7 separate regions of the Homo sapiens genome follow, and all the other regions are reported to be linked to region 6. Evidence: microRNA targets listed by miRTarBase, many of them from high-throughput screens and not tested one by one. Region 6 holds a microRNA gene; each other region holds the end of a gene's coding sequence.

What was found. Region 6 holds the annotated microRNA hsa-miR-4691-5p (GUCCUCCAGGCCAUGAGCUGCGG, at 1,746-1,768, opposite strand). A microRNA usually pairs through its seed, bases 2 to 8, with sites in the 3' UTR of a target mRNA and lowers its output. Matches are read on the target gene's strand: a 7mer-m8 pairs with bases 2 to 8, a 7mer-A1 pairs with bases 2 to 7 and ends in A, and an 8mer does both.
Region 1: the mRNA of DYM is a reported target of hsa-miR-4691-5p. Seed matches in the 3' UTR shown: 7mer-A1 at 1,013-1,019, 8mer at 2,021-2,028 and 7mer-A1 at 2,327-2,333.
Region 2: miRTarBase lists STK11IP as a target of hsa-miR-4691-5p. Seed matches in the 3' UTR shown: 7mer-A1 at 999-1,005.
Region 3: the mRNA of PNMA3 is a reported target of hsa-miR-4691-5p. Seed matches in the 3' UTR shown: 7mer-m8 at 843-849, 7mer-A1 at 1,198-1,204 and 7mer-A1 at 1,947-1,953.
Region 4: miRTarBase lists KCNJ6 as a target of hsa-miR-4691-5p. Seed matches in the 3' UTR shown: 7mer-m8 at 2,807-2,813, 7mer-A1 at 2,280-2,286, 7mer-A1 at 2,268-2,274 and 7mer-A1 at 1,679-1,685.
Region 5: miRTarBase lists TRPC4AP as a target of hsa-miR-4691-5p. Seed matches in the 3' UTR shown: 7mer-A1 at 940-946.
Region 7: miRTarBase lists ZCCHC8 as a target of hsa-miR-4691-5p. Seed matches in the 3' UTR shown: 7mer-A1 at 1,363-1,369.

What each region holds. Positions count from the first base shown.
Region 1 is chr18:49,040,511-49,044,858 of GRCh38, reverse strand. It overlaps DYM (dymeclin), which reads left to right. Exons shown (of 18, transcript NM_001353214.3): 18 at 655-4,348. The coding sequence ends at 804. All of the region lies in intron 4 of DYM-AS1 (DYM antisense RNA 1), which reads right to left. Among named protein-coding and RNA genes, the nearest start is that of MIR4744, 7.1 kb to the left of the region's middle. RefSeq lists an enhancer at 1-468.
Region 2 is chr2:219,615,395-219,619,742 of GRCh38, forward strand. STK11IP (serine/threonine kinase 11 interacting protein) reads left to right here. Exons shown (of 25, transcript NM_052902.4): 25 at 650-1,057. The coding sequence ends at 799. LOC124908064 (a long non-coding RNA gene) reads right to left here. Exons shown (of 2, transcript XR_007088701.1): 2 at 2,969-3,737. Among named protein-coding and RNA genes, the nearest start is that of SLC4A3, 10 kb to the right of the region's middle.
Region 3 is chrX:153,058,032-153,062,310 of GRCh38, forward strand. PNMA3 (PNMA family member 3) reads left to right here. Exons shown (of 2, transcript NM_013364.6): 2 at 1-2,431. The coding sequence ends at 416. Among named protein-coding and RNA genes, the nearest start is that of PNMA3, 3.7 kb to the left of the region's middle.
Region 4 is chr21:37,621,352-37,625,699 of GRCh38, forward strand. KCNJ6 (potassium inwardly rectifying channel subfamily J member 6) reads right to left here. Exons shown (of 4, transcript NM_002240.5): 4 at 1-4,133. The coding sequence ends at 3,808. All of the region lies in intron 1 of KCNJ6-AS1 (KCNJ6 antisense RNA 1), which reads left to right. Among named protein-coding and RNA genes, the nearest start is that of KCNJ6-AS1, 100 kb to the left of the region's middle.
Region 5 is chr20:34,999,396-35,003,743 of GRCh38, reverse strand. It overlaps TRPC4AP (transient receptor potential cation channel subfamily C member 4 associated protein), which reads left to right. Exons shown (of 19, transcript NM_015638.3): 18 at 128-334; 19 at 461-1,340. The coding sequence ends at 598. MYH7B (myosin heavy chain 7B) reads right to left here. Exons shown (of 45, transcript NM_020884.7): 36 at 4,339-4,348; 37 at 4,049-4,173; 38 at 3,838-3,953; 39 at 3,055-3,451; 40 at 2,851-2,976; 41 at 2,586-2,756; 42 at 2,395-2,499; 43 at 2,218-2,313; 44 at 1,659-1,796; 45 at 1,307-1,567. The coding sequence ends at 1,556. Among named protein-coding and RNA genes, the nearest start is that of MIR499B, 11 kb to the right of the region's middle.
Region 6 is chr11:68,031,330-68,035,677 of GRCh38, reverse strand. It overlaps MIR4691 (microRNA 4691), which reads right to left and starts at 1,781; the gene lies at 1,697-1,781. It overlaps NDUFS8 (NADH:ubiquinone oxidoreductase core subunit S8), which reads right to left. Exons shown (of 7, transcript NM_002496.4): 2 at 3,469-3,526; 3 at 3,342-3,392; 4 at 2,666-2,755; 5 at 2,395-2,567. The coding sequence starts at 3,526. It overlaps MIR7113 (microRNA 7113), which reads right to left and starts at 2,814; the gene lies at 2,756-2,814.
Region 7 is chr12:122,469,521-122,473,818 of GRCh38, reverse strand. ZCCHC8 (zinc finger CCHC-type containing 8) reads left to right here. Exons shown (of 14, transcript NM_017612.5): 14 at 1-2,219. The coding sequence ends at 322. Among named protein-coding and RNA genes, the nearest start is that of ZCCHC8, 29 kb to the left of the region's middle.

The DNA.
Region 1 (4,348 bases), not on the chromosome of region 6:
TTGTAGAGCCAGGCCTAGGCCTTTTCCCAGACTCCATGAGGAGCAGCCTCGGGCTCCCTCTCCGCAAAGCCAAAGCCATTGCTCCTGCCTCCAGGGAGGAAGAGACTGAGGCCAAGCTATGGCCAAGAAAGCTGGCCACCCCAGACCCCCGCTCCTCCAGAGTAGCCCCCCTCCACCGGTGGCACATGCCTACCCCTTCAGGTCAGGGCTCAGGATTGTGAAGGGGAAGGTCCTCACCTCCAGAATGGTGGAACCCTGAGGACAGTGCCTCTCAAAAGCCAGTCCCTAGCATTGCACTCTGGGGAATATCAGCCTGAGCCTTGTCTGCCTCCCAGGCAGGGTCCATGTCTCAGCTAGGATATTTCTCATCATACCTTAACCACTGTTGGGGTCCCTAGCAGGGAACTATCAGCCAAACTGACATTAGCCAACCAGGACCCATTGTGTTACTTGCTCTCTCCATCGGTAATTCACATTTTCTCAGGAGCCATTTGATAGCTGAAATATTTTAAAGCCCCAGAGCTTTCATGCCCTGTGACCAGTTGGCAGGGGTGGGTGGGCTCCCCGCACACCACAGCACCACCTGCAAACTCTCACCACTTTTGCTTGTGCATGGAACTGTGGGATTATAAAATCATCTTATTTTCATTGCAGAAATTTCCAGAATTGAAATTCAAATATGTGGAAGAGGAGCAGCCCGAGGAGTTTTTTATCCCCTATGTCTGGTCTCTTGTCTACAACTCAGCAGTCGGCCTGTACTGGAATCCACAGGACATCCAGCTGTTCACCATGGATTCCGACTGAGGGCAGGATGCTCTCCCACCCGGACCCCTCCAGCCAAGCAGCCCTTCAAGTTCTTTTATTTCTGGGTAACAGAAGTAGACAGACAGGTTACTTGGTGTATCTTCTGTTAAAGAGGATTGCACGAGTGTGTTTTCCTCACACACTTTGATTTGGAGAATTGGTGCTAGTTGGCAATAGATAACTCAGCGTAGATAGTATTGCAAAAAGGGGAGGAAATACACAACAATAATAAATGTAAAAACCTGCTATTCAACATGCAGTTTTATTTCGAAGCCAAAAATCTAGAGCTTTCCCAAGATCCTGTTGCCTTAGGCACATCACACTTCAACAGTGCACACTATCCAACAGTGCACACTATTCAACAGTGCACACTATTCAAAAGCGTAGACTATTTTTTTGCATGTTCAAGATATTTGTTTTGGTCTTATGTGTGTGTGAGAGAGAGAGATTCCTTTGACATTAAGGAGCATCAATGAGAAAAGATGATGAGGCAGGAATTAATAAAGAAATGAAGTCGTGTGTGTTTGGTTGCCTGTCAGAGGGCACACAATTTCATAAACACCATGCCTGGACAATTTGATATTAATATTTAACACCTCTGCATCTTTTCTTAAAAAAGAATATGGGCCAGATACAGTGGCTCACATTTGTAATCCCAGCACTTTGGGGAGCCAAGTTAGCAGAATCCCTTGAGCACAGGAATCTGAAACCAGCTTGGGCAACATAGTGAGATCCCATCTCTACAAAAAACTTAAAAATTAGCCAGGCATGATGGCACATTCCTGTAGTCCTAGCTACTCAGGAGGCTAAGGTAGGAGGATTGCCTGAGCCCAGGAGTTCAAGGCTGCAGTGAGCTAAGAACGTGCCAGTACACTCCAGCCTGAGCCACAAAGTGAGACCCTGTCTCGCAAAAAAAAAAAAAGAAAGAAAAGAAAAAGAAAATGGCTACTTCTCATGAAGCCCAGATTAACTTTTCTGTGAATATGGCCTGTGAACTGTTGCTGGAATTAAATTGGAGTCTAGCACAAATTAAGTTAATCTACTCTGTATTAATCATTGGGAAAAAGAAAAGCTTCATTTGAAAACAGTCTTTTTCCTTCACCCACACTAATAGAAAAAGGAGAGTAATTTGTTCATACTGTATTCCACGTGGGATGAAAAGCATGTTTTGCTCTTTGTTTCTGGGCCGGTGTGATCCGTGTGTTGGTGCCTGAGCTGGAGGAAGGAGCTTCTTGCAGGGAAACAGCCACTGGGGCCACATTGAGGGCCAGTTGGGACCTTCCTTTCCAGTCACACTCTGTGTCCTCACGGGCCCCTTCACAGTCTAGATAAGGAGCCTAGTTTCATTCTCAAAGAAAAAGTATTTGGTCTTCAACATAGAAAGCACAAAAGCCCAGACGAGACTGAGCACACTGTTCGAATCCACTGCCAGCTCATCTGTGTCAGGGCTGGCTTCTCCTGTCCTGTGTCCCAGGGCTGCAGGCCCGTGTTATTTGAGTCCATCAAATCTTCCGAGGGCCTCGGAGGAACCATTCTCAGTCACCCCAAGCTCTGTAAAAGGTCAAAACACTGGCAGCCTCTCAGTGCACCACTGTGTGGGCTCCACACGGGAAGGCCTGGCCAAGCTGTGCTCTTAGAGGCTGTCGAGGTAGGGCAGGAAGCTTCCCTATCCTCGTCTGGATGGAATGAAACAGAGGTTCCCTAAGGCCAAGGGACTCGTGGAGCGCCCATCCCGGGTGGGGTCCCAGAGGTGAGTGCAGCTTGCCTCCTGTCCCCAAGGGGCTTGTTCTGTCAGGCCTCCTCCAGTCACTGCTGGAGTGGGGACTCTGACTCCTGTGTTCACCTCAGAGCCCATGTACAGGCTAGAGGTGAGGCTTGGCAACAACTTCTACTAATACTTAGCTTTGTGGCAGAGCCAGTCTGAAGGAGGAGAAGCGCTCTCAGCCAGCAGGGGGAGTGATGATTATCATTTCAGGTAGCAAGGATATGTATTTACTATGTGGGGAAATAATTTGCAACTTTAATTTGTTTCCAAAGCATTTTGATTGGCTTCCTTTTCCTTTAAACCAAAAAATTGTTTAAATGTTTAAGGGTCATGTGGAACAGCTGAGCTTCTGGCAGGACCACAGAACTGTCCTCTGAGTCTGAGGGCTGGGCAGTGCCACAGGACAGTCCCTGGGCTGCAGGACTGTCAGTGCTTGTTGTGTGAGGAAATGAGGCCCTTCAAAAACCCAGTCATCTTGACAGAGGGCACACTCCCAAGGAAGGCCTGACTGGGGAATCATACAGCCTCTCCTCCAGGCCTCTGGGCTCACTGAGGTGCCCCCAGAACCCTGATTGCCCTCCCCTCTTTCCCTTTTCTCATTCATCACACAGTAGAAGCACTCACTAGCTAACAGCTCAGCTGGGGCAGCAGCCTCCATGGAGGCCTGCAAGTGATGCTCCCAGTCCTGGTTCCCGCTCAGGAGGGAGGCCCCACCACGTGCATCACTGCCTCAGCTCTGCAAAGTCACCAGAGGCTTCTTCCTGATTTTTGTGAAAGATTTATTATATGGCAATAAATCTGAATGATAAACTTTCATTATACTTGCATTAATTTTGAGTATTAGTTTGCTTAGAAATTTTTACACGAAGTAAAAATGTGTAATGATGCAACACAGGATCATCGTGTGTTCAGATGGAAATTGGCATCTGATTTTACCCCAGATCTGAAGCTGTTACTGCATTGTGTCATTTTATCAACAAAGACTTCTGCCACAATATTTACTTTTAAAAGAATTTGTCCCTTTCAATAGCATCTTCCCTATCAAGAGTTCAAGGCACTTTGCAGAAGAGCTTCAGATTTCTAACTCTAGTTCCCACAGTCACCCGTTGAGGCTGGTGTCATACAATCTATGAACAACAACCTTGCAGCAGGACTGCCACCATTCAGCAGTGCAGACAACACAGCTCAAGGACAAAGACAGAGAAAGGAAAGAAGAGAAGGTCCCTGAAGGTGAAGCATAGAAAGTACACTGCACACACAGTTCTCTCTGGAAGGAAAGCACAGGAGCTGGGAAGTAGACGATAGAAAGTGGAAAGGACACAGGACCAGCATCAGAACACTCAGCAACTTCCTAAGAGCTTGCTAAGGTACATCCAAGAGAAATATTTAGTGAGGGAAACTTTTAAGCACTGGAATTGTTAATATATCATACTTTAAGCAACATTTCGTCCTTTAGATTCCGGGAGCCAGGGTTTTGCATTGGGTGGTAGAGCTCTCTGCATAATTGAGTCACCCTGTGCTTTTTTGCAGAGCCATAAATTTTTGGCACTTGCTGATACTTCATAGGCTGGAGTCTCTGCAAGGTCAACCCTTTGGGTCTCTTAATTCTTTCCTAGGCACTATCCTGCAATATCAGTAGTTGCCACTTGATTTTAGGGACTGATTATTAGGCCTTCTGACTCCAAATTCAGAACAATTCCAGTGTCCTACATCACCTCCTGGAGTCAAAGAGGTCAGTTTCTATTCAGTGATGAAGAGCTAAGCTAGCTATGCATATGA
Region 2 (4,348 bases), not on the chromosome of region 6:
TTGGGGCCATGAGGGCAGGGTGGGAAATGGGTCTAGGAACCCTGGGCATTGGTGGCAGGATGGCACTTACAGATGAGAGAACTAGGGTTGGAGGAACTGGGGGACTCTAGGCTTGGATGAATATCAAGTCAGGGAGGCAGCTGTAGGCAGGGGAGACACCTGGACTGGGAGCCCAGCCATTTAGCTGGGCCACGAGGCTTTCAGTGAGGTTTCCGGCAGCTTTGAGTTGGCAGGATTGGGCCGGTTGTATGCCAGCCGTTTGGCCTTTGTGACCACCACCTGAGGAGATACGGTTACTGGTCCTATTTACAGGTGAGGAAGCTGAGGCTTGGGGATGTTAACCAGTTTGCCCAGTCCAAAGTGGTGGAGCCGGGAATTGAATCCACAGTTCCCTGAAATTGAGCCCGCATCTTCTGTACAACAGGGAAGATGAAAAAGACAGGTCCTCTGGAGGCTTTCAGTAAACGTCGGCTGGATTCTGTTTACAAAGCTCAGAGTCAGGATCTTTTATGGGGAGTGACATGGGCCTGGGGAAGGGGAGAGGCACTGAGCCAAGGTGGAGACAGTGAGGCCTTCGCAGAGACCTCCCTTGTACCCACCCTGGTGTGGTCCCCATGAGCCTCGCCTTGCTAACTGCTCGGTCTGCCAGGTGTCCCGGCTGGAGAGCTTTTGGGCACTCCGTGTGGTGTGTCAGGAGCAGCTGACAGCCCTGCTTGCCTGGATCCGGGAACCATGGGAGGAGCTGTTTTCCATCGGACTCCGGACAGTGATCCAAGAGGCGCTGGCCCTTGACCGATGAGGGTCCCACGCTGACCTTGGCCCTGACCTCAGGAGCCACGCTGTAGACATTCCCTCTCCTGGTCTCTGGGTCTGGCTTCCAGGCTCTGGCTGTGGATGTCTTCAGCCTCTGGGTGCTGGCCAGTGAGGTCCCAAATGACCCAGGGCTTAAGGGAGAGGCGAGAGAATGATCTGGCCTCAGGGGACAGGCCACCTGGTCAGGAGGAATATTTTTCCTGCACTTTTTCTCAGGTATCAATAAAGTTGTTTCCAACTCATAGGTCATGTGTGGTACTTAGAGTCACTCATAAGGCCTGCAGTTCCCCTAACCTCTTCTGACAGAAGCTATCCCACCCATCACCTTTCCTGAATGGGCAGCTCCAAGCAGCCTTGTTTGTGCCATGAGACCCCATCTCCAACCCAACTGTGGTCCCAGCATGGGAGATCAAGTAGAGCTCCTGACCCACAGGCACACAGCCCCAAGCTGGCAGTGACTTGTCATGTGGCCCGGCATGGAATTGCTGCCAAACAAGTAGCTGGGCCAGATACGGTCCTGCTCTCTTGAACTTTACATGGAAAGTAGTGAGGACTTCAGGCCATCGCAGAGGGTGTCTGGGGAGAGGGTGTGTGGAGTTGAGTGGTGACCTCTGGTGCTTCCTGCCATTGCCTTCTCAGCACCGCCTCACTCAGCCTGGAGGCCTGGATGGTCAGCCCCACTCCCTCACCTCTTGTCTCCAAGTCTGGCCCCAGTGATTGGTTCAGGAATCCTCATGTGAATTCGTTTGGCTTATGAAGCCCCAGCGCAGGCATTTGACTAGAGCAACCAAGAAGGAGGCAAGTTTCCTCTCAGGGTTGCTGTGAGGATAAGCCTGGAGCTGCTGGCTGTGGGGAGGCGCTTTCCTAAAGTGGAACCATGAGAGAGAGGAAGATGGCCCAGATGGAGAGAGCAGGGCCAGACTCTGGGGATATCTTTGAAGCCCCTGGGTCTAGTTGTGCCCGAAGACAGAAACCCCTGTGACTTTAGGTAACATGATCTAAAAAAGAAGCCCTCCCCTCCCTGTTTCTATGGCTTAAGCTAATTCGAAGCAAGTATGAGCCACCAAGAGTCCCAACTAAACAAACCCCGACTCCAACTTGAGCTGGGCTGAGATCTGTTTCTTGTACCCAAGAATGAACACAATGGAGATCATTACAGCCACACAGTTGTGCAGAGAGGCTCTGGTTCTTGGTTCCGATTCTGAAGTGAGGCAGAATGATTAATCCAGCTCACTTTTTGTGTCAGGTCTATGGCCTTGACCACTTTGTGACCCGACTGCTTGGTGGGAACAGCAGTACTGGGGCTGTGTCACTGGGGCCTTCTACCTGGAAAGGATGTGGGAAGGGTTGCCTGGCCTAACCAGCCCACTACATCTCTAAATCCATGGGGCGAACTTTTTAAAAATGAAAAAGGGTCATTGAAAATCCTGTACTTTTACATTTATTTAAAATTATTTAAAATGTATTTAAAAGAATGTATACAGGAAAAAAATGTATACTGTACTTAAGAATGTAGAGTGAGTTGCTCTCATATGCCTGACCCCCTAACTCTAGATTCAAGCATTCTTACCCAATTTTTGTGTATCTGCTTAAAATCTCAGTGCATGTACACAATTTTCCCCAGAAAAGGGTAATTAAGCCATTCACTTCCATTTAGAAAAAAGATTGGCCGGGTGCACTGGCTCACGCCTGTAATCCCAACACTTTGGGAGGCTGAGGCGGGCGGATCACGAGGTCAGGAGATGGAGACCTTCCTGGCTAACATAGTGAAACCCTGTCTTTACTAAAAATACAAAAAATTAGTGGTGGAGGTGGGCGCCTGTAGTCCCAGCTACTCTGGAGGCTAAGGCAGGAGAATGATGTGAACCCGGGAGGCGGAGCTTGCAGTGAGCCAAGATGGTGCCACTGCACTCCAGCCTGGGCGACAGAGCAAGACTCCGTCTCAAAGAAAGAAAAAAGATGATTTCTAAGATTAGTTTCTCCCTGGCAGGTCTGGCCTGCTTTGGCGGGAGAGTAGGGGGGGAATGGTAGGAGTCATGGAACCGGCTAGTTGGGAAATGCTGGCTGGGGTAGAGGCCTCTTGGAAACAGCTGCAGAGGCTGAGGGCCCAGAAAGATCTGTGCAGAGGCCCAGAAAATAAATTCACCTACTTCTGTTTTGCTCAGAACTGCCCTCAATTTTTAATTGAAGCAAATTAAAACTTCCCAAAAATATTAGTCCACTTTCTTGGCAAGGTACACAGCCCCTTCTCAGTCAGTGATTTTGGACCATCTGCAAACAGGAGCTGGTACTGGTCCTGAGGAAGGCCTTTCCCTGGCCAGAGGCTGCCCTTCACACCAGGCCTGTTTGCAGGCACTTCCCCAGAAGCCGGGTCAAATCAGGCCATGGTGCAGATGGGGCAGAATAATCTCCAGTCATTCAAGGTGATTGGTAGAGAAGTGCGAGGCAGGGAGTTGGAAGAGGAGTTCCTTCCATTTCTTTGTGCTTACCATCTCTGTGAACACCTTGTTTTCTAGAACAGTGCAGTGGAGTCTTCTGCAGTGTTTATGCAAAAGTGCTCTTTTTTTGGTGACGCAGAAGACAGAGGTCAAGTGTGAGGTCATCACCACTCCTGGAGGTGTCTGTCCCTTTAGTTCTGCACCTCACTAGGAGCAGATGAACCAGGTGCACCTGCCCCTCTGACCCTTCCGCCCTCTGAGCAAAGGTGACTGCTTTCCCACTGGTGCTCAGCACAGGTGTCAGTAGGAGGCCCTTGACCCTGGACAACTCCCAGAGATGGATTCCTCCATTCAGTCTGGCCTTTTCCCTCCAGCAAGTGCTTATTGATTGCCTGGCCTCTGTTTGGCCTTGGGCTTGCTGGCATGAAGGACGCAGACCTCTGGCTCCTGGAAAGCAGTGGAGAGAAGGGATCCTCTCACCTGAAACTAAATCCAAGGGAGAAGCAGGAAATCAGTGGTGGGGAATGAAGATGAGGATGAGGAGGAAGGGGCACAGAGGTGGTATTGAGGGTTTTTTTTTTTTTGTACTTAGAAAAATTAAAAACCCTCTGTATTATAAATTCAAAAATTATATTTAAAAATTTATATAAGGCCCTAGGGGGGTTAGTGACTTAACTAAGTGATAGAAAAATCAATGACTAAGACTTCAGAAGCAGGGAGCAGGCCAGCTCGACAGACCTGTCTCTTTTTCTCTGTAGGAAAGGGTCTGTCTTTGCCACGTGGAGGCGACATCCTCCACCCTTGTCAAGATGCTGCGGTAGCTTCTGAAGAGACCCTACCCAGATTGTTTGGCTGTGGTTGAAAATTCAGCTATGGTTCTGTGTGTTATGTTTTGCCCATCACTGAGCACATGCATTATTTCACATCTATCTATTCATCTACTCAAGGGGTGGTGTGGTGTGGTGGTATAGGAAAAGAGATGGTGGATTTAGCTCTAAAACATCCAGGGTTATGCCTTAGTTTTGTGGCTCCATATTTAATCACAAAAGTGCTCACCCTTGTTCCCTCATCTACTGCATGGGGATGAGACTGATCAG
Region 3 (4,279 bases), not on the chromosome of region 6:
TGGTGAAGCTCCTGCGTGAGGAGGAGGAATGGGAGGCCACTTTAGGTCCAGATAGGGAGAGTCTGGAGGGGCTGGAAGTAGCCCCAAGGCCACCTGCCAGGATCACTGGGGTTGGGGCAGTACCTCTCCCTGCCTCTGGCAACAGTTTTGATGCGAGGCCTTCCCAGGGCTACCGGCGCCGGAGGGGCAGAGGCCAACACCGAAGGGGTGGTGTGGCAAGGGCTGGCTCTCGAGGCTCAAGAAAACGGAAACGCCACACATTCTGCTATAGCTGTGGGGAAGACGGCCACATCAGGGTACAGTGCATCAACCCCTCCAACCTGCTCTTGGTAAAGCAGAAGAAACAGGCTGCAGTTGAGTCGGGAAACGGGAACTGGGCTTGGGACAAGAGCCATCCCAAGTCCAAGGCCAAGTAGGCTCGGGAGAACAGGGCAACATTTCCTACCACAGGCCAAGGAGACAAAAGAGATATTGGAAGGAGGGGAAAGAGAAGCCCAGACAAACAGCAGATGAGTTGAGTGGGGCAGAGGGACAGGGCAGCCAGACCAAGGCCAAGCCTTCTCACCCTTGGCCAGCTGGAAGGGACTTCAGCAACCAAGACCACCTGGCAACAGGCTCAGTGGGGGTCAGGTCCAGGTCCCCGAAGAGGTGCTGGAGAGGAAAGCAGGGAGCCACTGCATCCAGCACATGGGGTGCCTGGGCCTCAGATGGGGACCCCAAAGAAGCAGAAGCTGAAGAAGGTACGGCTGGGGGTTCTGTCCTGCTCATCCAACCACCCCTAAATACCCACCCTGTGGACTTTGAGCTGAACATGCCCACTGGCCCCCAGGCCACATGGGACCTGGAGGAGCCTACCTGGGGCCTGCCCCTGCCAGCAGGTGCCAGGGCTGGTGAGGAAGAGCTGGGGGGCAGAGGTAAAGCCCTGCAGGGGAGGCCACAGGGTCCATCCCGTCTTCAGGATCATCTACACTGCACTAGGGGAGCCCCAGGAAGGCAGCACCCTGGAGGCCCTGTGCCAGTGAGGACAGGAGACCCTAAGGCCCCGGGAGCCCAGTGCCAGCCAGAGGTTGTGCAGGCAAGGAGACCAAAGATTGATGAGAAGACCCCCAGCAGGGGTACTGGGTACCCGGCAGGCCAGTGCCCTCACAGTTGACTTGGACCAGGGTGGCTGTGAAGGGAAGTCTTTGTTGCAAAGGAGGAGGAAAAGGGAGGACTTGGTAGGGTTTTGTTTCTTCTGCTTGTTTCTGTACAGGGCCACCAGACTCCTGGAGAGATCAAGCAAGGAGAACCTGGGGCTGCCATGGCCAAAGCAACTCAACAGATGCCAATGCCAATTCCAAGGCCAGCCACAACCCTGCCACCTTGGGGAATCCAGCCTGGAGGCATCCCCTAAGCAGCCAGCCATGGCCTGGGTGGAGGCACCTGAAGACGTCTGTCCCAAACTCCCCCAGCCCTGAGCTGGGAGATGACAGGGGGAAAGAGGCCCTCTCAAGGGTGCCAGATGCCTGGGTCTCCCAAGAGGGGTCCCCCAACTCACTGTTCCCGGGACAGGCTGCCCCCTGTTCCAGGAAGCTCATCCTCACCTGTGTAGGCCCCTGTAGTGACCCACGCGTCCAGCAGACGCCCACCCACCGCTAGCCGTTGTTCCTGTGCAAAGTAGTGTGCTATGCACCCACCCAGGTGGCCGCCTCTGGGCCCAAGGCACATGCTGTGAGCTTCCTGTGAGCCCAGGCTCTGCTCACTGCTGTCCCGCGTCATGAGCACCACCTCTGCTTTCCCTGTGTAGATCTAGGCCAGTGGCTGCTTGTTCTTGTGGAGCTGTGTGTGTTCTTCTCTGAGCAGCTCCTCCCCGGAGTCCCCCAGCACAGTCCCAGGAGATGACAGGAAGGAAGCACCAGGGCAAGGCGGACGCTCACCCTGTGACCACGATGGTGACCGTGACTGTGGGAGGAAGAACTGGACCCAGGACGGAGCGGGGCTGCCCTGCCTGAGGCTCCCGAGGAGCTTTGTGCTTTGGTGTTCCACCCCTGTTGTTACTCATGACTCAGTTTCCTTAACCTGGTAGGGTGTTCCCTGCTGTGTTTTCCAGTGTCCTGTGACTGTCCTGTGCGGGCCATAGGGCAGGGCCCTGCCCCAGCAGATGGGCTTGGGAGGGGACTCCCTAAAGCCAGTGGACACTGCCAGAGTCTACCTTCCTGGCAAGAGGCAGACCCCGGGGCCCTCAGGAAGGAGGGAGTTGGCAGCGGGGGCTGCAGCAGGAGTAGGAGCAGATGAGGCGTCTTGCCAGGAACCTCAGGAGGAGGGGGCCCGGGACCTGTGTGGGACCTGTGTCCTGTGGTGGCCGTTTGCAGTTTCTCTCTGTGTTGTGATTCCCTTCTCTTCAACGTTTTCAGTACGTGTTTCTCTTCAATAAACTTCATTCAGTGTTCCAGCCGGCCTCGCCTCTGCTGTGGGAAACTGGGGATGAGGTTGGCTGGGCATGGGGTTGGGGTGGAGTGAGGGCCACAGTGGCTTTGTTAACACTGGTGTATACTTGGGGCTCGGTCTGCAAGGCATTCTAGAATGCCCTATCTGCGCATGTTGGTCATGAGCTAGGGTTCACGGCCCACGGACCCAGGCAAAGAAACCCAGCTGAGCAGGCTGGATAGTCCCAGTAGACAGGACACTGGTAGGCCCAGGCAGTGGCTGGTTGGGTCCTCAGGGCACTGGTTGAGCTTCTCAGAAATGAATAACATATTTAAGGAAGGGTGAGGGACAGCAGGCTGGACCAGTGGCCCCAGGATCCCTTGTATCACTATTGGGCTTCCACACCTGGAGCATCAAAACCAGGCCCATCTCTGTGAGTGTGTGTGAGATGGTGAATATGTGTGAGTATGCGTACTAGTGATTGTGTGAGAGTGAGTGTAGGAGAGTTTGTGTGTGTCATGTGTCAGCGAATGTGTGAATATGTGAGTGTGTGAGATGGTGTGTGAATATGTTAATGTGTGTTTGTATTTGAGTGTGAGTATGCATCAGTTTTTGTGTGTGAGTGAATGTGTGTTAGTGGTCAAATGTATGTTTATGTGTTTAATGTATATGTGTGTTAGTAAAAGTATGTGAATATGTGAGAGTGAGACGGTGTGTGAATGTGTGTATGACAGTGAATGTGTGGGTGACTTTGTGTTGTTGAGTGTGCACATGAGTGAATGTGTGTTTCAGAGTGTGTTTATGAGTTTGTGTGTGCATATGCGTGAATGTGTGGAATGGGTGAGTGTGTGAGTATGTGTGTTAGTGTGTATGAGACAGTTTATGAGAGGGTGTGTGAATTTTCGTGTGAGTGCAAATGTTGGGTGATTGATTTTTTTTTTATTTCTTTAAGGGATCAAGAGGGTTGGAAAGAAGGCAGAGAGAGGTAGAAGTTTCTTTGCCACCAAACAGCAGTGAGACTTTTGTTGCCTCTAGGCTGATGGCCCTAGAGCTGGGCCTACTAGCTAATCATCCATTTCTGACCCCTGGCACATTCCTATTTTTAAGGTTCACATGGCTTCTTGGCCTTTTGGCTACGATCAAGTGCAGTATCTATTTTAAGGTCCCTAATCTAAAAATAGATATGTGTTACAGTTATTGTGTGATTAAAGCTGATAGAAACATCCTCGTATGAATCTCTGTGGACTTTTGTTTTCCTTTCTCCCGAGTAAATACCTAGGAATGGAATGGCTGGGCCACAGGGTAGTGGTATATTTAACTTTATAAGAAACTTCACACAGATTTCCAAAGCTATTGTGACAATTTATACTCTAATGAGCAGTGCTCGTTTCTTAGGGTACTCCAAAAAATCTTGTATTGCCAGCTTTAAACTTTTAACCATTCTGTTGGGTGACTCACTGTGGTATCTCACTGAGGCATTAGTTTGCATTTCTGTGATGACTAATAATATCGAGCACTTTTTCATGTGCTTATTAGCTATCTGTCTTCCTTAGCGAAGTGCCTGTTCAAGTCCCTTGCCTAGTTTTTACCTGGCTTTTTAAATTTTTTATTAGAGTTGTGCAAGTTGTTAAAATACTCTGGATACAAGTACTTTGATATGTGTGCTGGGAACACTTTTTACCAGTTGTGTCTTTCTTATGCATATTCTTAATGGTGTCTGTTCATAAGCTGATGGGTTTAATTATAATGAAGTCCATTGCATCATTTGTTTCTTTTTACAATGACCACTGCCTGGGTCTTGCCTAAGATATCTTTCATTGGCCCACATTTGCAAACATATTGATCTATGTTTTCTTCTAGAACCTCTGTAGTT
Region 4 (4,348 bases), not on the chromosome of region 6:
CTTATGCCCCCTTTCTCTGTCCACCAGTTCCCACCTTTGTAAGCAGTTTCTAAATATCCCAAAGACACTGGCTTAAATCTAAATAAAAAAGCAAAGGGGAAAAAAGTAAGAAAACTGAAATGTAAGAAAATGTAGGGATGGAAAGCATAAGAATGTTGCTCTGGAGAATTCAAAATTTAGACTATTAAATGAAGTCATGAATAATTTTTAAATTGGAGTGCAGTGAAAAATAGACATTTCAGAGCCCTAGCTTGGTTAGACCTGCAAGAGAAAATTGTGCTTAAGAAATAGGTTGACATTTGCAGCTGGATTTCTGTTAGGGAACATAAGGTACTGAACTAAAACAATAGAATTGGAACTGGAGAACCAGGGAAACAGCAAAGGATGGGGATAGATGGAAGAACGGAGTGGGGGAAGAGAGAGTTCTGCCTCATGGACATAGAGGGGATATATGCTGGAACAACCAGGCTGGAAGGCCATGTTTGAAGGAACAGAAAAGTTGACATTTGCTATGTTAATGTAAAAGAGTATAGCTTACCCAGGGGACAGCTAAAACAGAAATGATTTTATTGGTTCCATAAAGTTGATTTATAAATGAATGGGTGCTCTTCCAGTTGGAGAGCACGTTGGGGTGGGTGGAGGTGAGAATCCGAGGAACTCAGCAGCCTTGTGGTGGGGGGTCATGCTTGCAGCTGAACCTGCCCTTCCATCCAGGAGCACTTTGTTCTGTCAAATTGGGGTCAACTGTGGCAAACCATAACCCTTAAATTCCAAATTCTTATCTGGCTCACGGATCCCACCATGCTTTATGGAAAAATGACTCAAATACATTAACCAAACAGACCAAAGGATCTAGTTGAGAGTGATCTTCATTAGTTATGGATACTGTTGTATTAAAAGAGACTTTTAAAAAATTCTCATTGCACTTGGTTTGCTAATGGAGTGACTGAGGGAATGAGGACTGGATATTGCGGAATAGAATGAGTGGAAATTGTGGGGTCAATTTTGTTGAGCTGTCTTAATGGAAAACACCATTCACTCACTACTCGCTGCTTAGAAAATCAGTCTCAATGAACTTTCAGTTCCAAATTTTAACAGTTGACACAAAATACACTGTTAAACTGTGTTAACAACTGTAGAAAAATAGACATGTTTGATAGGGACATTCTAGTAAAAGGTTCTTCAGGAGCATCCCCATGTAAAGATTCAGAGGCTCACATTACAAAAACGAGATTTGGTTCAAGTTCTGTCTCCAACTACATTGACAACAAAGACAGTGAGAAACAGGGAGAGACCTCACATCTGGGTGCCCGTCACAGACACAGAACTGACAGGTGCACGTGGCCAACGTGTTGTCAAGGCTCTTCGTTCAGTTGTGCTAAAGGGCAGGCAAGCAGGGATGAGGCCCTGAGCTGCTTGCTCTTCCAACCAGACACGGGGGTGTGCGCTGTCCTTTAAACCTTAGCAATGGAATTAAAAAGGCCCAGTGAGTCTTCAAGAGCTAAATTAGAAGACATTTTGCCGCCCCTATTCCATCTTGTTTTGTGCCTGCCATGGCCTGCCCTGCGACCCTGGCAAGGTTGCAGGGGAGCTCCCCAAGCCAAGAGTGCCCTTCATTAGGCTGCAGAGAGGTCAAGCCATGGCTCCTCCCCGCAGCCTCAAGGGGAGTGTATCGAGCTTCCTCCTCCCGGACCACCACCTCCTTCTTAGAGTGTGCGAAATAAAGAAATGATTCAACAGAGATTCAATGCAAAAAAGGAAATGCTGGCAAACAGGAAAGGGCTATAGCCAACAGTTTTGTTTTCCTTAAAGTCAGTGCCAAGAGGCAGTTGTCCTGATCCAAGGTCTCTGAGATGGGAGAAGAGAGGCCCCGAGGTTATATTTAGGAGCCACTTTCCTTATCCTGGGACTTCTTTTTTAGTAGACAAGGTCCCCAGACTACACCAAAGGCCTGTGCGATCAGGTCAGGGAAGGCAAGGGAAACAAAGAGGGACAGCTAGTTTGATCTCTTTGACCTCCATGGTGCAGAGCCTCAAACTGAGCACAGCTGTAGGAGCTGAAAATAAACTTGGATCCATTCAATGAATATTTATGATGGGCAACTGTGTTAAAGAACAAACAGCTTATAAATGCAAAGTGAATGTGAAAGATCTGTAACAGTGCAAAATCTCCACCTGCCCCGGAGGTTTGATCTAAGATTTGTTTCCTTATTTTTTTCATTTTAAAATTCAGATTTCCAGTACAAATACCCTTCCTTCCTTCCTTCCTTCCTCCCTCCCTTCCTCCCTTCTTTCCTTTTTGCAGATTAAAGTGAATTAAGGCTGGAATTTTTTTATTTGTTTTCTTTTGATTGACAGACACTGGATTTGATTTCTAGCCTGTGGCATACTCTAGAGACATTTCTTAGACAATCATCAAGATTGTTGATCTAATCTTTGAATACTGAACTCTGGTCATTTCAAAATAATAAAAGATCACAATGCAAGAAATGCTGATGGATAAGCCCCAGGGACAGGCGAGATGTCATTCTCAGAAAGCCAGATAGAGTCAAAGTGAGAGGTCGATGATTATAATGCATGCCACTCACTACATGCCTTTGTGAATTTCACGGCTTTAGACCCAAACCATCTTCTGCTAACTTACCATGTCTCATTGTAAGAGTGTAGAGAAACTACAGCTGGAGAATCAATGGTTTTGCAGAAAAGTTTCCTAAATTATTGTACTACAAAGGGCAAGAGCTCATGTGAAAAGTAAAAACATACCTTTGGTGACAGGCTAGAGAATATTTCCTTCCTGGTATTCCCCCTCCTCCAGGCCAGTTAGTGAGGCCCTTGTTATCTTTTAAAAAAAGACATCTGTTTTGTAACATTTCACAGTATATCAGCATATTGGTGGTGGGTTTTGCCATCTACCAGACCTCTCAATTTCCCCCAGACCTATGGCTTGTTGGATTCAATGAAAGGATCCGTGTGGGAACAGTGAGGTACCCTAACGTCTGCCAGTCTGAGACACAAACAAAGGCCATGCACTGAAGGGCCAGCCGTCAACTGGATCAAAATAACCTGGAAAACACAGACATCAAAACAGAAATGCCTACTGCATGTTAGGAATCTTTCTTTCTTTCTTTTTTTTTTTGCTTCTTATTTCTAAAGTTATATATCTAAACCTACATTAATGATACATCTATGTACAGTATTTAGCAGTTCTGTTCTATGGTACTTTTGTACATGCTGGGTTTTATTACTAATTACAAAAAGAAAATAATTACATAAGGCATATATATGTACAGTGGTTTGTCTTCAGCTCACCTGGGCCCTGTAACTGCCACACCCACATGGGGGCAAGCACCTCACCCTGTAGTAGATGAAATGAATTGGGATCCATAAAACTGAGGGCTCCACTCTGTGTCTCACTGAATGAATAAATAGGCACCAGAAACCTTGCTTGTCATATCCCAGGTAAAATCTTTGACACACCTTTTTGAGTGATCTGGTATTGTACAACACATGCAGGTAAGTAACTGAAATCTCCAGGAGTTGGATGTGTAGTATTTTGGGAGGAGACCAGGCTTGGGCCACAAATGAGGGCACTTTGCACTTTCATCAAATCCATGTCTACCTTGTCAATCTGAATAACTGAGAGAGGGCAGGTAGATATTTTACACCTTGAAGATTTGTTTTCTGGTCATGTAAAAATTAAATATAAACAAATAAAGAACAAAGCAAGAGAGACAGAAAAAGAAAGAGAATGAGAGACAAGGAAAGATTGTGTTGGGGGGAGAAGAGAAGGGTTTGCCCAGCTAGGGCACTAAACTTTGGATTCATTCTCCAGGTTTGCCACATCACCATTTCTTTCTGTTTGCTCTTCGAGGTTCTTTTCTTCCTCTTCAGTCTCCAGTTCTGCATGTTGGTTGAGTTTGCTGGATACAGACCAACTCAGGGGCAGCTCTGCCCTGCTGGCTAACTCGGCCAGCTCTTTGGCACTAAGGGATGGGGTGCTGGTCTCATAGGTCTCATGGAAGCTGTTGTAGTCAACTTCGTAGAACCCGTCCTCCAGGGTCAGGACAGGTGTGAACCGGTAACCCCACAGGATCTCACTGGTGATGTAGGAGCTTCGAGCTTGGCATGTCATCCCTGCAGAGAGAAGAATGGAGGCTTTAGCATATGTAAGTGTGGGCTTTCCATGGCCAAGGAGTCACAGAGAGCCAGGAGGAGTACTGCATGCAGCTGTTGAGACTGACCTGCATACGATGCCACACTTAGTAGGTGTCATTCATGTTGTAGACACATGCTAATGTGCCATGGAGATTCCAGGCCTCTTAAGGGAGTCCTGGGGAACAATGAGAGAG
Region 5 (4,348 bases), not on the chromosome of region 6:
AGGGAGAGCTCTGTGGGTGGCCCGAGGCCTGGGGCCACTCTCCTCCCTGCCTGATGGCTACCCAGGTTCACCAGGGGCCACTGGGGCTCCCACCAGCCCCTGACCCTGTGGGCCTGTGGCCTTGCAGGAGAACGTCAGCTGCCTCAACACCAGCCTGGTGATCCTGATGCTGGCCCGACGGAAAGAGCGGCTGCCCCTGTACCTGCGGCTGCTGCAGCGGATGGAGCACAGCAAGAAGTACCCCGGCTTCCTGCTCAACAACTTCCACAACCTGCTGCGCTTCTGGCAGCAGCACTACCTGCACAAGGACAAGGACAGCACCTGCCTAGAGAACGTGAGTGCCCCACCCTCAAGGGGGTGATGGGTGGGCCGCGGACCCAGGGCCTCTCAGAGGGGTGTCCCGGTGCTGGGCTTGACCTGGGTCCTCCAGGCGCCCCCCAGCCCCTCCCTCTTTGCCCAGAGCTCCTGCATCAGCTTCTCATACTGGAAGGAGACAGTGTCCATCCTGTTGAACCCGGACCGGCAGTCACCCTCTGCTCTCGTTAGCTACATTGAGGAGCCCTACATGGACATAGACAGGGACTTCACTGAGGAGTGACCTTGGGCCAGGCCTCGGGAGGCTGCTGGGCCAGTGTGGGTGAGCGTGGGTACGATGCCACACGCCCTGCCCTGTTCCCGTTCCTCCCTGCTGCTCTCTGCCTGCCCCAGGTCTTTGGGTACAGGCTTGGTGGGAGGGAAGTCCTAGAAGCCCTTGGTCCCCCTGGGTCTGAGGGCCCTAGGTCATGGAGAGCCTCAGTCCCCATAATGAGGACAGGGTACCATGCCCACCTTTCCTTCAGAACCCTGGGGCCCAGGGCCACCCAGAGGTAAGAGGACATTTAGCATTAGCTCTGTGTGAGCTCCTGCCGGTTTCTTGGCTGTCAGTCAGTCCCAGAGTGGGGAGGAAGATATGGGTGACCCCCACCCCCCATCTGTGAGCCAAGCCTCCCTTGTCCCTGGCCTTTGGACCCAGGCAAAGGCTTCTGAGCCCTGGGCAGGGGTGGTGGGTACCAGAGAATGCTGCCTTCCCCCAAGCCTGCCCCTCTGCCTCATTTTCCTGTAGCTCCTCTGGTTCTGTTTGCTCATTGGCCGCTGTGTTCATCCAAGGGGGTTCTCCCAGAAGTGAGGGGCCTTTCCCTCCATCCCTTGGGGCACGGGGCAGCTGTGCCTGCCCTGCCTCTGCCTGAGGCAGCCGCTCCTGCCTGAGCCTGGACATGGGGCCCTTCCTTGTGTTGCCAATTTATTAACAGCAAATAAACCAATTAAATGGAGACTATTAAATAACTTTATTTTAAAAATGACTGCTGTGGACCTGGCTTTTGTCCCTAGGACTGTGTTTTTCCTCCTGAACCCCAAAGAAAAGAATGAGAAGGAAACTGGCTGTGGTGTTTATTCAGGGCCCAGGGAAGGCTGAAGGCAGCAGGGGGCGATGCAGAGATGGCAGGATCGGGGCAGGTGGCCTCAGCCAGATGTGCAACAGCAGACATTCCTCTTTAGAGCCCAGGGGGTCAGGCCGTCACTCCTTGTGCTGAGGAGAAAGGGATAGCTGAGTGAGCAGTACTACCTGTCAGCCCCCACAGTCCCCCTGCACAGAGAGCAATGCCCCTGCCACTCCTCACCTTGGGGCCCAGGGCGTCCCGGGTCCGTGCCCGCAGCTTGTTGGCCTGGGTTTCCGCCATGTCTGCCCGCTCCTCCGCATCATCCAGCTCGTGCTGGGCCTTGCGATACTTGGCCAGGTTGGTGTTGGCCTGCTGCTCCTGGGGGCACACACAGGGCCTTGGTTCCGCTTGGGTGACTGAGATGCTTATTCTGGTCCCTGCCCCAGTCCAAGAAGGGAGCTAGCTCCTCCTGGTTCTCAACTTTGTTCCTATTGCCACTGTCCATCCTCACCAATACCACAGCGGGAATAAGGAAGTTGGGACGCACCAACTTCATGTGCCTTTTTGTGCCTGCCCCACCCCTCAGAGGCAGCCCCAGCCTTGGCCAGGGGAAAGCACATGGGGTCTGTTCCATGAGAAGGAGCTAGGTCTGATCTCCCCAGAGATGTTAGAAGCTTCTCTCTTCCCTCTGGGTCACTGACCTTGGAGGGTGGAGCTGCTGCTGATGCCTCACCTGGCCACAGACCCTGGGGCAGAGCTGGGGTGCCCGGTCCAGGTGTCCAGGCCCCAGCGCACTCACCGCCTCCTCAAACTGGCGCTTGTAGCTCTTGACCTTGCTCTGCAGCTTGTCCACCAGGTCCTGCATGCGAGCCAGGTTCTTCCTGTCCTCCTCGGCCTGGGCGGGCAAGGGGGACTCAGGGCTTGCTTGGGCTGGGCCAGCTCCAGGGCCACTCCCCAGGGAGACCCTGTCGCCCACCTGGTATGCGAGCTCCTTGACACGGCGCTCATGCTTGCGCACGCCCTTAAGGGCCTCGGCGTGCTTCTTCTGCTCTGCATCAAGCTCAGCCTCCAGCTCCCGTACCTGCAGGCAGGGGGACAGCCTGATGCCAAGCCCACCCCTGGGTCACCCACCCTGCCTGCGCCAAGGACTAGAGGGGCTGCACACACCTTGGCCTCCAGCTTCTGCACCTGCTTCTTCCCGCCACGGAGGGCGGCCTGTTCTGCCTCCTCAAGGCGGGCCTGGAGCTCGCGCACCGTCTGCTCCAGCGTCTTCTTCATCCGTTCCAGGTGTGCACTTGTGTCCTGCTCCTTCTTCAGCTCCTCGGCCATCATGGCCGCCTGTTGGGGAGGAGGAGCTGGTCAGGTGCCCAGCCTCAGGGAAGTCCCTCTGCAATTCTGTCCCAGGCTCCCCACAGCCCTTGCCCAGCCTCACATCAGTGATGGCCTTTTTGGCCTTCTCCTCAGCCTCCCGCCTCTCCTGTGCAGCCTCCTCCACCTCCCCGCTCAGCTGGGCCAAGTCCGCCTCCAGCTTCTTCTTCTGGTTTAGGAGGCCTGTGTTCTGAGGGGAAGAGGAGTCTCAGAGCCAGCCAGCCAGCAGGCCTGCACCTGCTCTGTCCCCAGGGACTCCTGTCCCCACCTGCGAATGCAGAAGGTTGAGGCGCTCGGTGGCCTCCAAAAGCTCCTGCTCTGCCAGTCGCCGGCTGCGCTCGCCCTGCTCCAGGGCAGCCCGCAGCTCCTCCAGCTCCGCAGCCAGCAGCGAGGCCCGGCGCTCCAGAGCCTGCGCCTGCTCGTGGAGCTCAGCTGCCAGCCGCTGCTCCTCGTCCCGCCCTGCCTGCTCCTCCTTGAGCTGTGCCTGCATCAGCCGCGTGGCAGCCTGGGCCTCTGTGGCCTGACGGGTGGCATGGCCCAGCTGCAGCTCCAGGTCGTTGAGGTCACCCTCCATCTTCTTCTTGAGCCGCAGCGCCTCATTGCGGGCCCGTGTCTCTGCATCCAGGGAGGCCTGCAGGGACTCCACAGCTCGCTGGTGGTTGCGCCTATGGGAGGAGGGTGGCATGAAAGGGGGTCTCGTAAGGGCATACCTGTCCTTACAAATGCCCAAGGACCGTTGGAAACGAACCCATTTTGAGAACAAATGAGTCACCCCTCCCCGATTTAAAGTCTCTTGTGACTGCCTGTGGCCCATCAGAGCAAGTTCATGGACAAGAGTGAGGCCCAGGCAGACAGAGGTGGACTGACTGGCTCCACCCCCACTGTGTGACTTTGGGCAAGTCCTTTAGCATCTCCGAGGTTCACAGCTAGAATGGAGACAGCAACCCGGACCTCAAAGTCCCATGGGAGGGACAGACTAGAGAGCAGAGTACACACTGCTTCCCTCCCCTTCTGCTCTCGGGAGGTGGGGACGGGAGAAGGATGGACACACCTCAGGTTAGCGCACTCCTCGTCTTTCTCTGCCAGCTTCCGGTCCACTTCTGCTTTGACCTGGGAGAGCTCCAGCTGGATCCGCAGCGTCTTGGTCTCCTCCAGCTCCAGGGCCCCCTGTGGATACAGAGCAGGCAGGGTAGGGTGGGGGGGGGGGATGGCCAGTGGAGCAGCAGGTCAGTGTCCACCCACCCCTGCAGCCAGCCCCTGACCTCTGCCTCCTCCAGTGCAGCCTGGATCTCACTCTTCTCGCCTTCCAGCGCCTTCTTGGTTTTCTCCAGTTCCTGGATGCTCTTCCCACTGAGACTCACCTGGTCTGTGAGGTCGCTGATCTCCTCTGCAGTGGACAGGGTGCTGAGAGGCCACCCCCATGGCTTGTACTCCCACCCAGGTCACTCCACTCACCCCTGATTCCAGGGTGGCCCCACCAGGGCACCCCCATAACTCAAAGTTGCTCCGACCCCAGGGCAGCACCCTGGCCCTGGCGTGTGGCAGGTCCTACCCTGCAGGTT
Region 6 (4,348 bases):
CTGTTCACCGCTTTGTTCAGTGTAGCACCCGCTGCCCTAAGGGTCTCACCCTGCGGTGAGTGCTGAGTTACAGTCCCGCCTCGCCTCACCAAGCTTTCCAGATATTTTGAGTTTTACAAATTGAAGGTTTGGGGCAACCCTGCATAAAGCAAGCTCACTGATGTCATTTTACCAACCATGTGCTTGCTTCTTATCTCTGGGTCAGCACTTTTTAGGAATAAAGTTTTTGTTGTTGTTTTTGTTTTTTGAGACAGAGTCTTGCCCTGTCACCCAGGCTGGAGTACAGTGGTGCAGCTCATAGCTCACTGCAGCCTCAACCTCCCAGGCTCAAGCGATCCTCCCACCTCAACCTCCCAAGTAACTGGGCCTACAGGGGCTAATTTTTTGTATTTTTTGTTGTTGTTGTAGAGTCGGGGTTTTGCCATGTTGCCCAGGCTGGTCTCAAACTCCTGGGCTCAAGTAATCCCCTCACCTTGACCTCCCAAAGCACTTGGACTACAGGTGTGAGCCACTGTGCCTGGCCCCTAAAGTATTTTTAATTAAGGTATATACATTGTGTTTTAGACACTTCGCAGCCTACAGTACAGTGTAAATCCTTTTTTTTTTTTTGAGACGAAGTCTTGCTCTGTGGCCCAGGATGGAGTATGGTGGTGCAATCATAGTTCACTGCAACCTCCGCCTCCCAGGTTCAAGCAATTCTCCTGCCTCAGCCTCTTGAGTAGCTGGGACTACAGGTGTGCAACCCCACACCCGGCTAATTTTTGTATTTTTACTAGAGACGGGGTTTCAACATGTTGGCCAGGCTGGTCTTGAATTCCTGACCTTGTGATCCGCCCACCTTGGCCTCCCAAAGTGCTGGGATTACAGGCGTGAGCCACCGCAACCGGCCCTAATTTTTTTTTTTTTTTTCAATTTTGGCTCACTGCAACCCCCACCTCCCGGTTCAAGTGATTATCGTGCCTCAGCCTAGCAAGTAGCTGAGATTACAGGGACCTGCCAACGTGCCCGGCTAAGTTTTGTTATTTTTAGTAGAGACGGGGTTTCACTATGTTGGCCAGGCTGGTCTCGAACTCTTGACCTCAAGTGATCCGCCCACCTCGGCTTCTCAAAGTGCTGGAATTACAGGCATGAGCCACTGTGCCCGGTCTAAATCTAACTTTTAAATGCACTGGAAAACCAAAACAGCTGTGTGACTCAGTTTACCCCGATGGTCTGGAGCCGAACCTGCAACATCGCCAAGAATGCCTACACTGTTGGGTGCAATCCTGTGCCTTAAATCTACTTCTCTCCATTTGATGGATGAGAAAAACAAGGTTCCGAGAGGTTGAGGGGCTCCCCAAAGCTACACAGCAAGTGGGGGCACAGCCCAAACTCAAGGGCACGTCCTAACTCTCAGTTCCTGGGTAGCCCGCTGGGGGAGGGGCTGGCTGGGAAAACCTTCAAATGTGCTTGGCAAGGACTCTCATATGCCCCCATCCCAGAAATGTAGTGTCCACAACTCACAGTGGGACCTGTGGCTGGCAGGCTCATCCTTTAGTGCTTATAAAGATGGAGACAATAACCTCGACCTCCTCGAGGGGTTGTGGAGATTACAGGAGAGGCTGTGAGTCACACACATGGCACAGCACCGGGTCTGTCTGTGGACAGCACTCACTGTCTGGAAGCCAAGGTTGTGACCATCGTGACTGCTGTTTGGGGACACTCCTATGCACTCTCAGTCCGTGGCTGGAGTAGAGACATCAGGGCCGCAGCTCATGGCCTGGAGGACCTGGGAGTGCTCCAGAGGACAAACTAGGATCTGGACAGGAGCCACCCGAGTCACAGAACACTGGGAGGGGTTGCTGTGCACACAGAAAGTAGCGGCGGCGGCTGCCGGGGCTCCTGCCAGGCACACACAGGGGTCTGACCAGAGCTCTGACCGAGTCATATTGTTCCCGTGCTGGCAGGCCTGGCCCCCACGGGTAAGCACGAGACCCACTAAGAGAACGGAAAGCCGGGCCTCAGGGGAGCAGCCACTGGGGAAGGGAAGCTGCAACAGGCACACAAGCAGGACTCCGGAAACGGTGGCTACATCCAGGGAGGCGTGGATGGCCTCAGGTGTCACCCCATGGCTCAGAGGCCCAGGGGTCACACCCTTGGCCAGACCCCAAGGGGGAACCTCTGTGTGTCAGGCGCCTGCCCAGGGCTGGAAGCTTCACTCTGCCAACTCACTGACTCTGTGCTCTGGTAACAAGCCCTCATCATTCCCATTCACGAGGGAAGTGGCTCAGAGGGGGAAAGGGACTTCCTGGGGACGCACATCAAGCAGGGGCTAGGGTTTGGGCCTAGGGCTGCCTGGCCTCCCTCTCCCAGTGGCAGGGGCTGGCGTGGTGGCCGGTTGGGGCAGGGGCTCACCTGGGCGGGGCAGATGGCCTCGCAGAGCTTGCAGGCAATGCAACGCTCCTCCCCGGATGGGTACCGGCGCAGCGCATGCTCCCCACGGAAGCGAGGGCTCAGCGGGCCCTTCTCGAACGGGTAGTTGATGGTGGCCGGTTCCCGGAACAGGTAGCTCAGGGTCATGCCCAGGCCTGTGGGCAGCACGGGTGTGGTGGGCAGGGGCACCCTCCTCCCCCATGCATCCGTGCCCACCCGGCACCTTCCCTGTCCCCTCATGCCCAGGACGCACCTCGGAAGAGCTCAGTCCACAGCAGGGTGCGGGCTGCCCGGTCAGTCACTGACTTCATGTCCATCTCGGGATCCTGCATGTTCACATACTCTGCAGAGAGGCGGGCAGGGAGGCCATGGCAAGAGGCCTCACACACTGTCTCCCTGGAGCCTCAGGGAGAGCAGCCTGGCCCTCACTTCCAGGTGCAACTGCTGGGCTACAAAGGGGCTGTACACTCACCACACCTCTCCCCAGCCTCAGCAAGGACCCTGGAGGCCGCCTCTGGCCTGAGCCCGTCCGTGCCTACCTCTCCCTGTGCTTGGGTGGCCATTGGAGCCCAGACGCACTTCCCTGCCCAACAGGGCTTGAAAGAGGAATCAAGGGGGGTAGGTGGGGGGCTTGAGCCTTTGCCTTCACCAGGGACTGGCAATAGGCACAGGTACCCATGGCTCACACCTGGCAACCCCCTCCCCATCACACCCAGGGAGCTCTGAGATCACACATGCTAACCTCGGCAATGATGGACCCTGCCCCTGTGAATCAGAGTCAGTCTCCATCACCATAATCATTTTAAAAGTGGAAACAGGCTCAGAGAAGAACGCCCCTGACAAAGCCAGGACTGGAACTCAGGTCTCTTCCCCTACTCCAGCAGGACCAGTCAGGAACACCTGAGGCTAGAGGCCACCCAGGTACTCACTGTAGGTGGCTGCCACTGCACTGCTGTGGAGGCTCCGGCCACCAGGAGGTCCTGCAAAAAGAAGGGCGTGACGTCATACCAGGAGACTGGACTCCCCTACCCCCAGCAAAGGCTTCTTTGGTCCTACCTGCACGTGCAGCCTGGGCCAGGGCCCGCAGCAGCATAGGCGTGGTCAGGCAGCGCATCTGGTGGCATAAAAAGGGATGGAGGGTGGGGTGTGCCCAAGAACCATCCTCTTCTGAGACTGGCACCGCAAGGATCCCAAGTCTCCACTGACATGTGTCACTTTGCCCTCTACTCGCACCCCATTGCTGTCAGAGGCACAGATGGCTTTCCTGTTCCCAGCGCCTCCCAGCTTTCCATCTGATTCAGCTTGGCTGAGCTACAATTCAGTTTCTGTGGACCCCAAGTTCTGCCTCACCTAAGAAACCTTTTAAATCCATCCTTCCTTTCTCCCTCCCAGAGATCCTGTTTCCCACCTTTCTGCTCCTCCCTTCATCCTCCCCAAATCTAACCAAAAACAACATTACCAGCCCCCGCCAGCATGCACTGAGAGCGAACTTTGTTAGCTCTCCTCCCCCAGGAACCGTGCCCAGGGGTGGAAAGCGCTGCCATCCTATCCTTACAAGGACTCCACGAGGGAGGCACAAATAAGGCGCTGGGACTCAGTTTGTTGAGTGACTCGCTAGGGCTGGGTGTGGTGGCTCACGCCTGTAATCCCAGCACTTTGGGAGGCTGAGGCAGGTGGATCACCTGAGGTCAGGAGTTTGAGACCAGCCTGGCTAACATGGTGGAACCCCGTCCCTACCAAAAAATACAGAAATTAGCCAGGTGTGGTGGTGGGCACTTATAATCCCAGCTACTCGGGAGGTTGAGGTAGGAGAATCGCTTGAACCCAGGAGGCAGAAGTTGCAGTGAGCCCAGACTGCACCACTGCCCTCCAACCTGGGCGACAGAGTGAGACCTTGTCTCAAAAAAAAGATAAAAAAGTGACTTGTCGGAAGTCA
Region 7 (4,298 bases), not on the chromosome of region 6:
TGAGGTGACATCACTTTGTCAGAAGGAAAAAGCAGAGTTGGCTCCGGTAAACACTGAAGGTGCCCTTCTTGATAATGGCAGTGTCGTACCAAACTGTGACATCAGCAATGGGGGCAGCCAGAAGCTCTTTCCTGCAGACACCAGTCCTTCAACGGCCACTAAAATTCATAGCCCTATACCTGACATGAGCAAATTTGCAACTGGAATCACGCCATTTGAATTTGAGAATATGGCAGAATCTACTGGAATGTACCTCAGGATAAGAAGCTTGTTAAAGAACTCACCCCGAAACCAGCAGAAAAACAAAAAGGCCTCTGAATAATGGCTTGACTTAGCACTGAGAGCTATTTAATAACTTTGTTCCGTTAATTAGTACTAATTAAGTGGATAGATAGAATGGTTTTCCTGTTTGTCCCTCCCATGTTTAAAAATCTATCCAAGGTTCATGTTCCAAAGTCAAGCCTATTTTAAAGAAAGACTGAGCTCACTAGTTCAGTATATTTTATTCTCACTGACAAAACTTGGGGGGAGATGTGAATATGACCTGGTTTAGAGAGGGTTTGTTAAGGTTTATACTATTTTTGGATTGTGACTATCCGTCGAGAGTGATGGTTTTTATCTGTCTTTTGTACATTGTTTTCCCTTTCTACATTTTGCTAATTATCCTGTATATAAGTTTAATATATCACTTTTTAAAAGAAAAAATTCTACCATTTTAAATTCATGTTTCAACTCCTACAACCAAATGAGAAAAATCAGGGATGAGCAGCTTTATCCCATTTGGGGTATTTTTGTAAGTGATTTACATGTGTCAATTTTAGTAATACTTTTACTTTTTTGTAACTTCATCCTTCATATATGCTTGCTATACAGGTATGTTCATCTTTGTGTACAGAGGTTTAATAAATTAGTTTTCATATACATAATCTAAGACTTTGAATACAAAAAAGTGATTCACAGGTAAAATCAGTGTATATAACCTTTTTTTTTTTTGAGACAAGGGTTTCACTCTTGTTGCCCAGGCTGGAGTGCAATGGCACAATCTCGGCTCACCGCAACCTCCGCCTCCCGAGTTTAAGCGATTCTCCTGCCTCAGCCTCCGGAGTAGCTGGGATTACAGGCATGTGCCACCACGCCCAGCTAACTTCGTATTTTTAGTAGAGATGGGGTTTCTCCACGTCGGGTCAGGCTGGTCTTGACCTCCTGACTTCAGGTGATCTGCCCGCCCAGCCTCCCAAAGTGCTGGGATTACAGGCGTAAGCCACCTCACCTGGCCGGTGCATATAACTTTTAAGTTTAAAAGTAAATTGTTGGCCAGGCGTGGTGGCTCATGCTTATAATCCTAGCACTTTGGGAGGCCAAGGAGGAAGGATCACCTGAGGTCAGGAGTTCGAGACCAGCCTGGCCAACATGGCAAAACCCCATCTCTACATAAATACAAAAATTAGCCAGGTGTGGTGGTACATGCCTGTAATCCCAGCTACTCGGGAGGCTGAGGCAGGAGAATCACTTGAACCTGGGAGTGGGAGGTTGCAGTGAGCCGAGGTCGCGCCATTGCACTCCAGCCTGGGCAACAAGAGCAAAACTCCATCTCAAAAAAAAAAAAAAAAAAAGGTAAATTGTAAAAATCAGTGGTAGCAAAACAAAAATAATGATAGGAATTGCAAGTTTGGGTGTTTTCAGTGGATTTCAGCCTTAAATATAGAAACAGCAGAATTTTTGAAAAGTAATTATTTTGAAAAATGAATGGCATGCAGCTAGCCTTTGTATAAAAATAATTTTCTAGATTTGAACCCTAATAGTTAAAAATTAAAAATTAAACATAAACATACTGCTTTTAATTGTCAGGTATATATATAAGATAGAGCTGAAACTGTGGTTTAGGTCTTTCTGTGGAATGCCATTACATCTTTATATTAGTCAAGTCCATGAAAATAAATGTTTAGATCGTCTTGAATTGTTAGTCTCAGGCAGTGTTATCCTGCTCTCAGGCCAACAGGGGGAGCAAAATAGAAACATTCCAGATATAGCTTTCATTTTTGAGAACTTGAGTAATCAGAATTTACTGTTCTGTAAAGAATAAAGGAAAGGAAAATTATAAAGAGAGAAATTTCTTTTTAAAGCCCTCACAGAATGTGCTAGAAATAGAATAAAATTTAAAATACTTTTGGCTTCTTTTCCTCAGCTTAAGTTCAAAATAAAAGCAATCCTTTACAGTTGTTTACATAGTGTTTTTAACCTGATCTCGCTCAGCATTTCTGTCAGGCAAATTATTATCACCACTTGGAAGTAAGGAAAGGGAGGCAGAGAGAGGTTAAAGGAACTTGTCGACATTCCAGAAGTGGTTCTTAAGGTGAGTGTTCAACTAAAGACTTGACTATTCCCTAAATCAGAGCAGTAGTTGTTTAAATGTCCCTTTAAGAAGTACTGCATTAGTAGAGTCACCTGTGAATACCAGAGGTCTCTTAATAGTTATCTCTTTGCCATTTACCAGACATCGTGTTAAGGTATTTTTGTGCATTACCCCATTTTCACCGTCACCACATTGGGTAGGCATTGTTAACCTCATTGTTGAGAGGAAATACACACAGCTAAATACACACATACTAAAACACACAGCTGATACACAACCTAGTAAATCTAAATCTAGATCTCTCTGACCCCCGTATCTGTGCTCTTAACTGCTGTACTGCCTCCTTGTCAAAAGCTCTACAAAAGCACTGATTCTTTTTTTTTTTTTTTTTTTTTTTTTGATACAGAGTCTTGCTCTGTTGCCGAGGCTGGAGTGCAGTGGCACAATCTTGGCTCACTGCAAGCTCCGCCTCCCGGGTTCAAGTGATTCTCCTGCCTCAGCCTCCCAAATAGCTGGGATTACAGTCATGTGCCACACACCCGGCTAATTTTGTATTTTTAGTAGAGACGGGGTTTCTTCATGTTGGTCAGGCTGGTCTCGAACTCCCGACCTCAGGTGATCTGCCCACCTCTTGCCTCCCACAGTGCTGGGATTATAAGTGTGAGCCACCGGGCGCCCAGCCAAAAGCACTGATTCTCAAAAAATGGGCTATTTCATTTGTTCAATTTTTGGGGGGTGTTGAGTGGGGGACAGGGTCTCGCTCTGTCACCCAGGCTGGAGTACAGTGGCATGATCACAGCTCACTACAGCCTCCACCTCCCAAGTTCAAGTGATTCTCCTGCCTCAGCCTCCAGAGTAGCTGGGATTACAGGTGTGAGCCACCACACTCAGCCTGTTCAGCCACTTACTGAGGACATACTTCTGATAAATGTTCTTCAGTGTGCTTTTCCGCATTAAAAAGGTGGATCACGAGGTCAGGAGATCGAGACCATCCTGGCCAACACAGTGAAACCCTGTCTCTACTAAAAAAAAAAAAAAATTTTAAATAGCTGGGCGTGGCGGTGGGCGCCTGTAGTCCCAGCTACTCGGGAGACTGAGGCAGGAGAATGGCGTGAACCCAGGAGGCAGAGCTTTCAGTGAGCCGAGATCGTGCCACTGCACTCCAGCCTGGGTGACAGAGCAAGACTCCATCTCAAAAAAAAAAGAAAAGAAAAGAAAAAATACTGTGGCCCAGCACGGTGGCTCATGCCTGTAATCCCAGCACTTTGGGAAGCCAAGGCAGGCATATTGCTTGAGGCCAGGGGTTTGGGACCAGCCTGGCCAACATGGTGAAACCCCCATCTCTACTAAAAACACAAAAATTAGCCAGGTATGGTGGTGCATACCTGTAGTCCCAGCCACTCAGGAGGCTGAGGCACAGAAATCACTTGAACCCGGGAGGCGGAGGCTGCAGAGAGCAGAGATCAGGCCACTGCACTCCAGCCTGGGCGACAGTGAGACTCTGTCTCGAGGGGGAAAAAAAGTGCTGGAATCTGCCTTTAAGGAGCTTATCCAGTACCAGGAGAAAATAGAGGGTTCCCTCTCAATTACAATACGATTCAGCTGGCAGCCATGAGAGGAAGGCAAGGTACTTGGGCCATTTTGTGGTGGTGAGAGAATCACCTGTGGAGGACTGACTTCAAATTCTCCGGACCACTGGATTTACTATTCATTTGGAGGGTATTTGAAGACTTCTGGAAATAGGTAACCATTGAACTAATCCTTAAAGCGTAGGTAGGAGGATTCATAGACAAAAATGCACATTGAAATGTATAGAAAGGCCGGATGTGGTGGCTCACGCCTGTAATCCCAGCACTTTGGAAGGCCGAGGCGGGTGGATCACGAGGTTAGGAGATCGAGACCATCCTGGCTAACTTGGTGAAACCTCGTCTCTACTAAAAATACA